Regions from separate parts of the Homo sapiens genome. Here region 1 is linked to region 2. Evidence: fine-mapped expression QTL. Tissue or cell type: substantia nigra. Region 2 holds a variant in brackets; the other region holds the start of a gene. All regions are shown on one strand. Distances are from middle to middle.

Evidence for each region. PIP is the estimated chance that this variant, and not a neighbour inherited with it, causes the effect.
Region 1: it holds the start of OR2L13, and the variant in region 2 is fine-mapped to the expression of OR2L13 in substantia nigra (GTEx, PIP above 0.99).

What each region holds. Positions count from the first base shown.
Region 1 is chr1:248,091,909-248,100,136 of GRCh38, reverse strand. It overlaps OR2L13 (olfactory receptor family 2 subfamily L member 13), which reads right to left and starts at 4,953. Exons shown (of 3, transcript NM_001395936.1): 1 at 4,883-4,953; 2 at 1,362-1,486; 3 at 1-779. The coding sequence starts at 761. LOC105373275 (a long non-coding RNA gene) reads left to right here and starts at 4,595. Exons shown (of 4, transcript XR_949369.3): 1 at 4,595-4,733.
Region 2 is chr1:247,565,569-247,573,796 of GRCh38, reverse strand. GCSAML (germinal center associated signaling and motility like) reads right to left here. Exons shown (of 5, transcript NM_145278.5): 4 at 7,838-7,866. It overlaps LOC102724446 (a long non-coding RNA gene), which reads left to right. Exons shown (of 3, transcript NR_188589.1): 3 at 7,846-8,158. Among named protein-coding and RNA genes, the nearest start is that of OR2G2, 19 kb to the left of the region's middle. The variant G/A (reference allele first, on the strand shown) is at 4,794.

The sequences.
Region 1 (8,228 bases), 530 kb before region 2:
AAAGGTGCATAGTAAAAGATCACTACAGTTAAATGTGTTGAAATGGTGGTGAAGGCCTTTTTTCTCCCCTCCTTTGAGTGCATATGATAGACAGCAAATAGGACTCGGCCACAGGAAGAAGTGATGCCAATGAAAGGGAAAAGGAGAAAGAGGCTTGTACTTACAAAAACCATATATTCATAGACCCAAGTATCTGTACAGGCAAGAAGCAACATGGCTGGGACATCGCAGAAGAAATGGTCAATAGCCCTAGACCTGCAGTAGGGAATATGAAGGGCAAAGACTGTGTGTGCCAAGGAGTTGATGGACCCCAGTGTCCAAGAGCCTCCAATCATCTTCACACACATCATTTTACTCATGCGGATAGGATAATAGAGAGAGTGGCAGATGGCCAAATAACGGTCGTAGGCCATGGAGGTCAGGAGTAAGCCTTCAGAACACGCCATGGTCAGGAAGAAGAAGCTTTGCACACCACATCCCAGGAAGGAGATGCCTTTCTGGCCGGACAGGAAGTTGTACGCCATCTTGGGGACGGTGGTGGAGATGTACATCAGGTCCATAAGGGAGAGCTGGCTGAGAAGAAAGTACATCGGTGTGTGGAGACGAGGATCCACGTGGATGAGGTGAATCATGGCCGAGTTACCCACCGAGGCCAGAAAGAATATGAGGATGATAAGGCACAAGAGAAATATTCCAGTTTGATTTGGGGGAAGCAGACCCAACAAAATGAAATCATTTGAAGTGTGATTCCATTTCTCCATGAAAACTTTCTGCTGTAACTGTTGAAAGAGAAATAGAAACAAAAGCAAAGCACAAAACATGAAATAAAACACAATAGAAAAACAAAAAGGAACTGACTTTATCAATGTTTGTTTAGAATGAGTTGTTTCTCCACTAACACTGCAGGTTTTTTTTAATCAATTTCTATATCTGAAGCATATGGAGATTAGAGAGGATATTCACTTTCTGTTCTTATAGTTTGATTTTCATTACTGTAGATGACAGCAGAGTCAAGCAGCTACAAATCTATTCAACTGGAAAAGCCAGTGTGAGCAGTAGAACAATTGTAATTTATGGCTTAAGCATGTCTTCCAATTTAATTAGATAGAACAACACAATTAAATGTTAATAATTGAGAATAAAGAAATCAAGCAAACAAAAATAAATAATTTTCCCTCCCTGGAAAGTTTGTCTAGCTTTTTATGCCTAGGCTTTTCCTTGGGAATTTTTATTTATGACTTTTAGAATCTCTCTTTTTCTCTTTACACCACCCCAAATCTGGCAGTTTGTTTTTTTCTTCATGCAGTTTCCCAGGTATTCGTAAACTATATTTCTAACATCTGTGTGACTTCTTCCTTTACCTGGGCTTGGAGTGAGAGGTCATGTTTTGTGTGTGCTCTTCTGTCTGAGGCAGACACTGATGTCTCATCCTGCCCAGCATATTGATTTGGTTAGTCATCTTGGGTTACTGATTTTTCAACTTTTGCTGTTCAAAAGCAAATCATAGTTTGTTGCAATTATTCACATTTAGGAACTTAAACTCAACTGTTAGTTCATATAACCTTGGGTAGCATGAATACAATTGTGAAAGAGAGCCTGCCACAGGAAAAAAAATGGAAATTCATTTCTATAGCTGTCTAAGGAATAAACACTAACAATGAAAAGTTGGGAACATGACAGGTGCACAGTAGCATTGGACTTGGATGCCAAATGGGATCACAGGCACTCTCTGCTTCTTATAGTGCTTTAGAAATAAAAACTGATCAGAAAAAAACATGAAAACCATCATTATGATACATTCATTTCCTCAAATAGTGTTCACTGAATTTATGTTTTATGACAGTGCTGCTAGCTACTGATGTGCTTTGGTGATGAAACACAAAGGATTTTAGAATATGTAATTAAAATTGAGATAATTATACAAACAATAGACCAACAAACTCAAACATACAGTGATGTTATGTAGTGATTACGATTCTATAGAAAAATAAAAAAGCAGAGAGATCATTGGATTAAACAAAGGAATTCAAAAAGTATTCCAAACGACTTTTCTAATTTCCAGGGTATGTATGATAAAGATTGATTTTGTAACTCATGTGGCTTCATTCTATCAGTAAGAACTATCCTAGTAATTTAGTTCCAAGCAAATATTTGATTAATTTTATCAGATTAACATGTTGACAGCCTTTGATGCAGTAGTCACTGAGTGAGGCAGTGGGGATAGAATGATTCATCAGGTGCTGTCCCATCCCCAAGTGGGCGACCAACTGTCCTGATGTGCCCAGGCCTTAGGGGATGCCCAACATGTCCTGGAAATTGGAAAAGCCTTTTGTAGTGCTTTCTGAATTCCTTTGTTTAATCCAGGTTTAAATCCAGGGGAAGAAAGCTGCCAGCATGATCCCATGAGGTGTATCCAATACCGAGCCCTGAACAAGCTGACTTGGGTGTAGGTTTATGTGTTCCATCCTGGAGTTGTTTTGAAGAGAGACATTTTGATTCTTTGTTGCATAGACTATAGCTCAGAGTATTATAAAGATTGTTTTATGGCAGTTACTACAATAATGATTTTGTTTCCAAAAATGGAAAAGTGGCATGTTGTTAGGCAATGGAAGAGAATAGTTACTTTTAGGATCCTGTGAATCTGGGACTTGGAGATTTTAGGTCATGGGATATTGGAGTTTGAGTTTAGGATCTATTTCCATTGATGTCCAGCAGCTTTCCTTGTTAGACATGGGACCTTATTTCATGCACCAGAATTACATGAAGCATCATTCTGTCGGTTACCTTATAGCTGGGAAAATGTTGTTCCTGTGGCTATCAGGTGAGTGTGAGATTAGTGACTGCCTTGGCCATCCTTGTTGACTTAAAGAACGACACTAAGGCAAAATTAATACAGAAAGTTTATTTGGGCCAAGGTTGAGGGCTGCAGCCCAGAAACACTTCTGTGGCAAGTAACCTGGAGAACAAGAAGAGACCCAAGTTTTTAAGGTAAAGAAAGGGAGGAATCAGGAGTGGAGACAAATTCTAAAGTTATTTATCAGCAAGTCTCACTGGTTTCAGAAACAACATTGATCAGTGATTGGTTATGCATTATTTAACTATAGGATATGTGGTTTAGGGGATTGATAGGTTAATTCATGGTTAGTTGCCACAAGTCAGTCCAGAGCCCCCATAGCACGTAGATTCAAGAGATGATTACCTAGCTCAAGAAAGAGTGAGATGTGACTGCGGCCACATTTCAATCTTGCTGGGCCTGATAATTTAAAGGGGGCTACTTATTCCTCAGATAAAAAGTTTATTTTCTTTCTCATTCTAAAAGATACGTTGCTGAAATTTATAGAGTTAAAAAACACCTCATTTCACAGAAACTAACAATGTAAGTGTAGCAAGTGTAGGGTCCTGAATTTATTTTGCAAAATTACAATTAGTGAATGCTTCTTAAAACTCTTTTAAACAATCAGCAGGAGACCAATAGCAAATAGTCATAGACTCAGCTCCCTCAATCTCAACAACGTATAGGACAACTATAAAGAGAATTCACAGTTCTGTGTGTTCAGCACATAGTAGGTCCTTAGTAATTGTCACTGTCCTTTGCCCATTCCCTGTGTTAACCATGGAGAGCCCTCACGCCCTGAGAAAATGTTTTTATTAATGTCACATTGTTTGAGAGCTGCACATAGTGCAACTCTAACAAGTTCATGTTACCTTTTTTTACATTTTTAGTTCACTCTTGGTTTTCATTTTTTTTTTTTTTGAGACAGAGTCTCACTGTGTCGCCCAGGCTGGAGTGCAGTGGCCTGATCTTGGCTCACTGCAAGCTCCGCCTCCCGGGTTCACGCCCTTCTCCTGCCTCAGCCTCCCCAGTAGCTGGGACTACAGGCGCCCACCACCACGCCCGGCTAATTTTTATTTTTGTATTTTCAGTAGAGACCGGGTTTCACTGTGTTAGCCAGGATGGTCTCGATCTCCTGACCTCGTGATCTGCCCACCTCGGCCTCCCAAAGTGCTGGGATTACAGGCATGAGCCACCTGGGTGCCCAGCCTTCTTTTTCAATTTGTTATGGAACTGTCTATTCCCTGTGCAGCAGAGAGTTTCCTGATGATAGGAAAACATTTCCAAAAAAGCTTTCTAGGATAAAGCCGACCCAAATCAACTCAATTCAGTTATATTACTATGACTCACTTTGCCCGAAGTTCTTCAGTTTATATAGTGGTATAAAAAGCAGTTTTATGGCCAGGCGCAGTGGCTCAGGTCTGTAAGCCCAGCACTTTGGGAGGCCAAGGCGGGCGGATCACGAGGTCAGGAGTTCGGGACCAGCCTGACCAATATGGTGACACCCCATCTCTACTAAAAACACAAAAATTAGCCAGGCGTGGTGGCATGCGCCTGTGATCCCATCCACTCGGGAGGCTGAGGCAGAAGAATCACTTGAACCTGGGAGGCAGAAGTTGCAGTGAGCTGAGATCGTGACCCTGCACTCCAGCCTGGGTGACATAGTGAGACTCCATCTCAAAAAAAAAAAAAAAAAGCAGCAGCTTTACAGTGACATCATAATCTGCAAACATTCCATATAATTATTTAAAACATGTAAGCATCAAACTATGTTCTGATAGTATATCAGGCTATCAATAACATTATATCACTGATCAATAGGCTCTGCATTAAACCAAAACTCTTTCTGAAGTGAGAATCTCTTCTTTATCTGCCAAAATTCATGAGGAAGAAACACCAGGTAACACTTTATAATATTCATTCCTTACAGCTCCCACAGCTAGTCATTGTCTTTATGGTGAAATCAGAAAACAACTTCACCAGCTCTTGTGAAATATTATCCTGTTTGCATATGCAGTGTTTAGATAAAGTCTCTTCCTTTCCTCTTACCTTGTTTCAGTGAGAACAGAATAAGGCATTTTACACTGAAGTCTCTCAGGTTCCACCATTGGAAGACAGAAGGATGAATGGCTATATTTTACACACAGAACCTTAAGTCACCAACCCTTAGATATTCCTCTTTCTCCTCTAATTGATCTCCAGTGTCCAAGTCCACGGGGGCCAAAACCTTGGTCACTTCACTTGACTTTGCTGATTTGGGGATGAACTCAAATTCTGAACTTAAAGCAAATCAACCAACCCAATCAACTTTGCTGCATTCAGCTGCTACCCAGAATCAGACTAAAGAGGGGTGTATTTAATATTCCAGTACATGATTTCAGAGCTATAGAAGATGTTAAATTATGTTTATGGAAATTCTGTCATCATGTAAGTTAGAGAATTCCGGATTAAAAAAGTGCAGGAACCACTTACAAGTACTCGACTCAGTAATAGCAGAACTAGTCCCAAGGATAGTTTCCTGTCCACTCTTTAGTGAGTTTCCAGGGGGAATGATTGATGATTGTGACTAAATTAAATTATACTAGGATAAAACACTTCCTTCTACTTGTTAGGTGGGGGTAGATAATTGATACATGACAATATATATCCATTTAGCTATTCTACTAAAGTGAAAGCTGACTCTTAGAGACAATGTGATAAAATGAGCATTTAGAGTCAGAGAGAATACTCTAGTCTGACAGCTATGCCACTAATTAGGAAGCTGAGTTGGGAAAATTACTTAAGATTTCAGCCTGTTACTAATCTTTACAACTGGACTAATTTGAGGGACATTCTAATAATTAAATAGAATGATGTATGCCAAATGTTTACATAGTGTCTGTTGCAGAGGAAGGGCTCAATCAACTGTAGCATCTCTTAACCTCTTTAATCCATACATTGGTTAACTAGAAAAGAACACTTTATTTGGGGTTATATTGTTCTTTTTTTATCTTTGAAGGCACTAACTGCTATATTTTATGTCAGAAATTAGAAATAATGCTATAAAATTAATATCCATGTTCTTTGTTTTTTTCCTTTAATTTTTTAGAATTATTATGATTATCTAATGGTTGCATATATTCATGAGGTACATGTGATGTTTCAATACAGGCATTCAATGTGTAATGAGCAAATAAGGGTATTTGGGGTACCTATTACCTCAAGCATTTATTAATTTTTTCTGTTAGAAATGTTCCAATTCCACTTTTAGTTATTTTGAAATATACAATAAATTATTGTTAACTATAGTCATCCTGTTGTGCTACTACATTCTAAGTCTTATTCATCCTAACTGTATTTTTGAGCCCATTAATCATCTCCAGTTTATTCCCCACTCTACTCTACTCTGCCGAGCCTCTGGTAACAGTCATTCTACTATATTTATTATTTTTTAATTTTAGCTCCCACATATGAGCAAGAATGCTCAAAGTTTGTCTTTCTGTGCCTGGCTTATTTCATGTAATATAATGGATAATGAAAATTTACTAGATACATAGAACACTATTCAACCATAAAAAAAAATAAGAGTGAATTCCTTTCATTTGCAACAACATGGATGGAACCGGAACTAAAGTAATGCTGGATTCTTGAATTATCTTGGCACCCTTTGTCCTAGGAGATGATGAGATGAGACTCAATAAATACTGGATGCAAATACGATGAAGTACGAAACTGGACAAAGCCATTCTAGTGCTTTAAATAAGAAGAGTGGACCAGTTATGATCACATACAGATTTTTTATTGCTCTTGTTAGTCTTTGGTAACTTCTATGTTTTTCCCTGCTGCAATGTGGTGCTGCTTGCATTTAACTCAGTGCAAAACTCAAACCCAGGTAAAACTCATTCTCAGCCTGTTACCGTCCCTGTAAGATCCATACACAGCAATGAAACGTGACTTGAGGAAAGTCCAATATATGATGATGCATCTCACCTCAAATTTATGACAATACATCTCAGATTTATGAATACAAATCTCATGGCCCTTTTGCCACGTCACAGTATGTTCTTGTTCTCTGCAGACTTTCTCTGAAAAGTAGTGATCCATGCCTCCTCCTGCTTTCCCCAAACCTTACCCCACTTCCACATCTCTTAGACTCCTCTGGGAAAAATAAACAAACCTGTTAATAAAACAATCAGATTTCAAACTTTTCTTCCATGAACTGTATCAGCCTCCCTCATTCTGTACCATATACTCAGCCTTGTTTCCTGTGACAGCGTATGAAATGACCGTGCTCCTGCCTAAACCCACTCTCTACTTTTGCACAAGGCTCAGCCCCTCTCAGCATCTCCTTTTTACATTTCCATTTCCATCTTCATCTGCACAGAAACATAAATTCTTTAGAGGAAAATATGGCTGTCAAAGATTCAATCATACTCCTTGGAGGCTCTGACCAAAGATTGAGCATCTTTTTCTTTCTGCAGAGATGGAAGTTACTCATTAACAAGTTGGAGCGGTGATGGATATTATAGACAAGGGGTTTCAGTAGGTGCGATCAATTAAAAAAAATCCAGGATGTAATGAATTACTCTGTGATGGTGTCTCCATGAAGCCTGGGAGCTTATAATGAGTTTAGAGATTCTTTACAATTTCTTAGTGACAATAAAGTTTTGGTTTAACCAGTGTAACCCTTCTAAGAAGACTGTGAGGCAGGTATAATTTGTGAAAGTCTGTTTTATAGACCAGAATGTGGTGTACTTTGATGAGTGTGTATTCTAATGTTGTTGAATGGAGTAGTCCACAGATGTGAAATAGATCCAGTTGGTTGATGGTGCTGTTCAGTTATATTCTTACTGTTTTCCTGCCTCTGGATGTATCAGTTACTAACAGAGGGGTGCTGAATATCCAACTTTAATTGCAGATTTATGTATTTCTCTTTTGTTGTCCTATATGTTTTTGCCTCATCTATTTTGACATTATGTTGTTAGGTACATACACATTAAGTATTAATATGTATTATGTAGGAAGTCTTAGCCAGAGCAATTAGGCAAGAGTGAAAAATGAAAAGCATTTAAACAGGAAGGAAGGAAGTCAACATATCTCTCTTTATAGATGATACCATTCTATATCTGGAAAACCCCATAGTCTCTGTCCAAAAGCTCCCTGATTTGATAAATAACTTCAGCAAAGTTTCAGCATACAAAATCAATGTACAAAAGTCAGTGTCATTTCTATACACCAATAGCAGCCAAGGTAAGAGCCAAATCAGGAGCTCAATCCTATTCACTATGGCCATGAAAAGAATACAGCTAATGACGGTGGTGAAAGATCTCTACAATGAGAAATATAAAATGCTGATCAAAGGAATTGGAGAGACACCAACAAATAGAAAAACTTTCCATGTTCATGGATAGGAAGA
Region 2 (8,228 bases):
ATAAAAATGGAAATACTGCCCAAAGTAATTTATAGATTCAATGCTATTTCCATCAAGCTCCCCGACTTTCTTCGCAGAACTAGAAAAAACTACTTTAAATTCCATATGGAACCAAAAAAGAGCCTGTTTAGCCAAGACAATCCTAAGCAAAAAGAACAAAGCTGAATAGGAACAGCTCCAGTCTGCAGCTCCCAGCAAGACCAATAGAGAAGGCGGGTGATTTCTGCATTTCCAACTGAGGTACCCAGTTCATCTCATTGGGACTGGTTAGACAGTGAGTGTAGCCCACAGAGGGTGAACAGAAGCAGGGTGGGGCATCACCTCACACAGGAAGTGCAAGGGATTGGGGAACTCCCTCCCTTAGCCAAGGGAAGCCATGAAGGACCATACCTTGAGGGACAGTGCTATCCAGCCCAGACACTACACTTTTCCCACGGTCTTTGCAACCCACAGACCAGGAGATTCCTTTGGGTGCCTACACCACAAGGGCCCTGGGTTTCAAGCATAAAACTGGGTTTCAAGCACAAAACTGAGTGGCCATTTGAGCAGACACCAAGCTAGCTGCAGGAGTTTTTTTCATACCTCAGTGGTGCCTGGAACACCAATGAGAAAGAACTGTTTACTCCCCTGGAAAAGGGGCTGAAGCCAGGGAGCCAAGTGGTCTTGCTCAGTGGGTCCCACCACCATGGAGCCCAGCAAGCTAAGATCCTCTGGCTTGAAATTCTTGCTGCCAGCACAGCAGTCTGAAGTCGACCTGGGACATTCGAGCTTGGTGGGGGAAGGGGCATCTGCCATTACTGAGGCTTGAGTAGGCAGTTTTCCCCTCACAGTGTAAACAAAGCCGCAGGGGAATTTGGGCTGGACTGAGCCCACTCCAACACCACAAAGCCACTGTGGCCAGACTGCCTCTCTATATTTCTCCTCTCTGTGCAGGGCATCTCTGAAAGAAAGGCAGCAGCCCCAGTCAGGGGCTTACAGAAGGAAAGGCTGTGGGTGCAGCTTCAACGGACTTAAACATTCCTGCCTACCTGTTGGCTCTGAAGAGAGCAGCAGATCTCCCAGCACAGTGCTCAAGCACTGCTAAGGGAAAGATGGCCTCCTCAAGTGGGTCGCTGACCCTCATGCCTCCTGACAAGGAAACACCTCCCAACAGGGATCGACAGACACCTCATACAAGAGAGCTCCAGCTGGCATCTGGCAGGTGCCCTGCTGGGACAAAGCTTCCAGAGGAAGGAGTAGGCAGCAATCTTTGCTGTTCTGCAGTCTCCACTGGTAATACACATGCAAACAGAATCTGGAGTGGATCCCCAGCAAACTCCAGCAGACCTGCAGAATACGGGCCTGGTTGTTAGAAGGAAAACTAACAAACAGAAAGCAATAGCGTCAACATCAACAAAAAGGACAACCACGCAAAAACTCCATACAAAGGTCACCAAGAGCAAAGACCAAAGGTAGATAAATCCACAAAGATGAAGAAAAAGCAGCTCAAAAAGGCTGAAAATTCCAAATACCAGAATGCCTCTTCTCCTCCAAAAGATCACAACTCCTCGCCAGCAAGGGAACAAAACTGGACGGAAAATGAGTATGTCAAATTGACAGAGGTGGGCTTCAGAAGGTGGGTAATAAACTCTTCCGATCTAAAGGAGCATGTTCCAAGCCAATGCAAGGAAGCTAAGAACCTTGAAAAAAGGTTACAGGAATTGCTAACTAGAATAACTAGATTAGAGAAAAACATAAATGACCTGATGGAGCTGAAAAACATAGCACGAAAACTTCGTGAAGCATACACAAGTATCAATAGCCAAATTGATCGGGCAGAAGAAAGGATGTCAGACATAGAAGATCAACTTAATGAAATAAAGCATGAAGACAATGTTAGAGAAAAAAAAATGAAAAGGAACAAACAAAGCCTCCAAGAAATATGGGACTATGTGAACAAAGATCAAACCTACATTTGATTGGTGTACCTGAAAGTGACGGGGAGAATGGAATCAAGTTGGAAAACACACTTCAGGATATTATCCAGGAGAATTTCCCCAACCTGGCAAGACAGGCCAACATTGTAATTCAGAAAGTACAGAGAACATCACAAAGATACTCCTGAGAAGAGCAACCCCAAGACACATAATCATCAGATTCACCGACGTTGAAATGAAGGAAAAAATGTTAAGGACAACCAGAAAGAAAGGTTGGGTTACCCACAAAGGGAAGCCCATCAGACTAATGGCGGATCTCTCTGCAGAAACCCTACAAGCCAGAAGAGAGTGGGGGCCAATATTCAACATTCTTAAAGACAAGAATTTTCAACCCAGAATTTCATATCTAGCTAAACTAAGCTTCATAAGTGAAGGAGAAATAAAATCCTTTACAGAGAAGGAAATACTGAGGGATTTTGTCACCATGAGGCCTGCCTTACAAGAACTCCTGAAGGAAGCACTAAATATACAAAGGAAAAACCAGTACCACCCACTGCAAAAACAAACCAAAATGTAAAGTCCATTGACACTATGAAGAAACTGCTCAACTAATGAGCAAAATAACCAGCTAGCATCATAAGGACAGGATCAAATTCACACATAACAATATTAAACTTAAATGTAAATGGGCTAAATGGCCCAATTAAAAGACACAGACTGGCAAATTGGATAAAGATTCAAGATCCATCAGTGTGCTGTATTCAGGAGACCCATCTCACATGCAGAGACACACATACACTCAAAATAAAGGGATGGAGGAAGATTTACGAAGCAAATGGAAAGCAAAAAAGAGCAGGTGGTGCAATCTGATAAAACAGACTTTAAACCAACAAAGATCAAAAGAGACAAAGAAGGCCATTACATAACGGTAAAGGGATTAATGCAACAAGAAGAGCTAACTATCCTAAATATATATGCACCGAATACAGGAGCACCCAGATTCATAAAGCAAGTCTTTAGAGACCTAAAAAGAGACTCAGACTCCAACACAACAATAGTGGGAGATTTTAACACCCCACTGTCAATATTAGACAGATCAACGAGACAGAAGATTAACAAGGATATTCAGGACTTGAACTCAGCTCTGGACCAAGTGGACCAAATAAACATCTACAGATCTCTCCACCCCAAATCAACAAAATATATATTCTTCTCAGCACGAAATAGCACTTATCCTAAAATCAACCACATATTTGGAAGTAAAACACTCCTCAGCAAATGCAAAAGAACAGAAATCATAACAAAAAGTCTCTCAGACCACAGTGCAAATCAAATTAGAACTCAGGATTAAGAAACTCACTCAAAACCGCAAAACTACATGGAAACTGAACAACCTGCTCCTGAATGACTACTGGGTAAATAATAAAATGTAGGCAGAAATAAAGATGTTCTTTGAAACCAATGAGAACAAAGACACAACAAACCAGAACCTCTGGGACACAGCTAAAGCAGTGTTTAGAGGGAAATTTATAGCACTAAATGCAAACAGAAGAAAGCGGGAAAGATCTAAAATCAATACCCTAACATCACAATTTAAAAAACTAGAGAAGCAACAGCAAACAAATTCAAAAGCTAGCAGAAGACAAGAAATAACTAAGATCAGAGCAGAACTGAAGGAGATAGAGACATGAAAAACCCTTCAAAAAATCAATAAATCCAGGAGCTGGTTTTTTTGAAAAGATTAACAAAACAGATAGACCACTAGCCAGACTAATAATGAAGAAAGACAGAAGAATCAAATAGACACACTAAAAAATAATAGAGGGGAGACTACCACTGATTCCACAGAAATACAAACTACCATCAGAGAATACTATAAACATTTCTACACAAATAAACTAGAAAATCTAGAAGAAATGGATAAATTCCTGGACACACACACCTTCCAAGACTAAACCAGGAAGAAGTTGAATCCCTGAATGGACCAATAACAAGTTCTGAAACTGAAGCAGTAATTAATTAGCCTACCAACCAAAAAAAGCCCATGACTAGATGGATTCACAGCTGAATTCTACCAGAGATACAAAGAGGAGCTGGTACCATTCCTTCTCAAACTATTCCAAACAATAGAAGAATAGGGACTCCTCCCTAACTCATTTTATGAGGCCAGCATCACCCTGATATGAAAACTTGCCAGAGACAAAACAAAAATAGAAAATTTCAGGCCAATATCCCTGATGAACATCAATGCGAACATCCTCAATAAAACACTGGAAAACCAAATCCAGCAGCACATTAAAAAGCATATCCACCACGATCAAGTCGGCTCCATCCCTGGGATGCAAGACTGGTTCAACATACACAAATCAATAAACGTAATCTATTAAACAGAAAGAACCAATGACAAAAACCACATGAATATCTCAATAGATGCAGAAAAGGCCTTCGATAAAATTTAACACCCCTTCATGCTAAGAACACTCAATAAACTAGGTACTGATCAAACCTATCTCAAAATAATAAGAGCTATTTATGGCAAACCTACAGTCAACATCATACTGAATGGGCAAAAGTTGGAAGCATTCCCTTTGAAAACCAGCACAAGAAAAGTATGCCCTCTCTCTCCACTCCTATTCAACATAGTATTGGGAGTTCTGACCAGGGCAATCAGGCAAGAGAAAGAAATAAAGGGTATTCAAATAGGAAGAGAAAAAGTCACATTGTCTCTGTTTGCAGATGACGTGATTGTATGTTTAGAAAATCACATCGTCTCAGCCCAAAAACTCCTTAACCTAATAAGCAACTTCAGCAAAGTCTCAGGATACAAAATCAATGTGCAAAATTCACAAGCATTCCTCTACACCAATAACAGACAAA[G/A]AGAGCCAAATCATGAGTGGACTCCCATTCACAATTGCAAATTGTGTTTTATTCTCTTTGTATTCACAATACAAAGAGAATAAAATACCTAGGAATACAACTTACAAGGGACGTAAAGCACCTCTTCAAGGAAACTAAAAACCACTGCTCAAGGAAATAAAAGAGGACACAAACAAATGGAAAAACACTCCATGCTCATGGATAGGAAGAATCAATATTGTGAAAATGGCCATACTGCCCAAAGTAATTTATAGATTCAATGCTATTCCCATCAAGCTACCATTGTCTTTCTTCACATAATTAGAAAAAAAGCTTCTTTAAATTTCATATGGAAACAAAAAAGTGCCCATATAGCCAAGACAATCCTAAGCAAAAAGAACAAAGCTGGAGGCATCACGCTACCTGACTTCAAACTATACTACAAGGCTACAGTAACCAAAACAGCATGGTACTGCTACCAAAACAGATATATAGACCAATGGAACAGAACAGAGGCCTCAGAAATGACACCACACAGCTACAACCATCTGATCTTTGACAAACCTGAGAAAAGCAAGCAATGGGGAAATGATTCACTATTTAATAAATGATGTTAGGAAAACTGGCTAGCCATATGCAGAAAACTGAAACTGGACCCCTTCCTTACACCTTATACAAAAATTAACTCAAGTTGGATTAAAGATTTAAATGTAGGACCTAAAACCATAAAAACCCTAGAAGAAAACTTGGGCAATACCATTCAGGACATAGGCATGGGCAAAGACTTCTTGACTAAAACACCAAAAGCAATTGCAACAGAAGCCAAAATTGACAAATGGGATCAAATTAAACTAAAGGGCTTCTGCATGGCAAAAGGAACTATCATCAGAGTGAACAGGCAATCTACAGAATGGGAGAAAAATTTTGCAATCTATCCATCTGACAAAGAGCTAATATCCAGAATCTACAAAGAACTTAAACAAATTTACAAGAAAAAAACAACCCCATCAAAAAGTGGGTGAAGGATATGAACAGACACTTCTCAAAAGAAGACATTTATGCAGCCAAAAAACATAAGAAAAAAAAGCTAATCATCACCAGTCATTAGAGAAATGAAAATCAAAACCACAATGAGATACCATCTCATGCCAGTTAGAATGGTGATCATTAAAAATCAGGAAACAACAGATGCTGGAGAGGATGTGGAGAAATAGGAACGCTTTTACACTGTTGGTGGGAGTATAAACTAGTTCAACCATTGAGGAAGACAGTGTGGCAATTCCTCAAGGATCTAGAACTAGAAATACCACTTGACCCAGCAATCCCATTACTGGGTATATACCCAAAGGATTATAAATCGTTCTACTATAAAGACACATGCACTTGCATTTTTATTGCAGCACTATTCACAATAGCAAAGACTTGGAACCAACTCAACTGCCCATCAATGTTAGACTGGATAAAGAAAATGTGCCACAAATACATCATGGAATACTATGCAGCCATAAAAAAGAATAAGTTTATGGTCTTTGCAGGGACATGGATGAAGCTGGAAACCATCATTCTCAGCAAACTAACACAGGAACAGAAAACCACACACTGCATGTTCCCACTCATAAGTGGAAGTTGAACAATGAGAACACATGGGCACAGGGAGGGGAACATCACACACCCGGGCCTGTTGGGGTGTGGGGGGCAAGGGGAGGGAGAGCATTAGAACAAATACCTAATGCATGGGGGGTTTAAACCCTAGATGAAGGGCTGATAGGTTCAGCAAAGCACCGTGGCACATGTATTCCTATGTAACAGACCTGCCCATTCAGCACATGTATCCCAGAACTTAAAGTAAAAATAAATAAATAAATAAATAATAAAATATATATAATGTAAGAAATGTTTCTAGAAAAAAAAAAGCCCTTGCTCCAAGCCCTGGTGTCTTAGAGACCTCATTATAGCAGCATAAACTGCACTCCAAGCTTCTACTAATTGTGCTTTAATTTTACTTGAATAATAAAAGAGAAAAGAAGGATGCTATTATGCCTCTAACTATCCAGGGAAAAGCACTTCTATACTTTCGTTCACACACACTGAGATGCAATGTTTGCAACAATCAGACCTCAGTAAGTAATGAATAAGTAATTATTCATTATAATTTTTATAAGATAAAATACTAAGAAAAAATTGAGTTTATGCACATTTTCAATTGCATAGACAGTGAAGGAAAGAAAAAATAAAAACATTAATATATACTAATTAAATCAACAAAATTTTTATGAGGTAGTATCAAAAGGAATAAACTTTTTTCCATATGTTATAGTTTCCACCATACTTGTCAATGCAAATGCTAATTCCTGGATATAAGGATTGAAAGGGAATGTGGAAAGCTAAAAATAATTAATGTTTTATGGTGGTCAGTTTTTAAGTATAAATTTACTTAATTTCATCTGTTTTTGTTATAATAGCTTTGAAAATTAAAATAATAGGCTGGACACAGTGACTAATGCCTGTTACCCCTGCACTTTGGGAGGCTGAGGCCAGTGGATTCACTTGAGGCCAGGAGTTCGAGACTAGCCTGGCCAACATAGTGAAACCCTGTCTCTACTAAAAATAAAAAATTAGCCAGGTGTGGTGGTGCACACCTGTAAAGCCAGCTACCTGGGAGGCTGAGGCACCAGAATCACTTGAACCCAGGAGGTGGAGGTTGCAGTGAGCCGAGATCGTGCCACTGCACCCCAGCCTGGATGACAGAGTGTGACTCTGTCTCAAAAAATAAATAAATAAATAAAATTAGACTTCAGCAGAATTGAGGCCAAAACGGTAAGAACTTGCTACTCATCTCGATCAGTTGAAATACTTTTTGGTTTTTTATTTCCTTTCATTTCTGCATTACAATTGCCATATAAATTATTTAAAATATGAATGATTTCTAAAAGTACATTTAGAAATTACAAATAAAGGAAGACAGATGCTACTCTTGAATAAATCATCTGTATTTTGGCATTTATCAGACAAACATAATAAAAGTTTGTGTTTTTCTTTTGTCTTGCTTTTTGTTTTCTACTTACCTGATTAGAAGTGGATGAAACTTCTTGGCCTGGAGAATTAAAAAAAAAAAAAAAAGAAAGAAAGGAAAGCACTGTGAGACTTTTGCCCCATCACAGATTGAAGGAAAAGGTGAAAAAAACAGAATGTAGAAGTCATAAAACTGCAGAGGCCTATTATCTAAACATCTGACATGACATTGCCCCATCTTATAACTGAAGTTCTCAAGACTGAGTGAAAAAATCAAGAAAGAACATGTGTTCTGAGATAGCATCAATAGTATGTTCTTTCTGTAAATAAAGCACATTAATGTACTGAATAAGATGGATTTCAAAATTTGGTAATAAAATGTTCATAAATGTGCTATGTCAATGCAATATGATAAGCATAAAGAAAGAATGATTATAGCTGCAA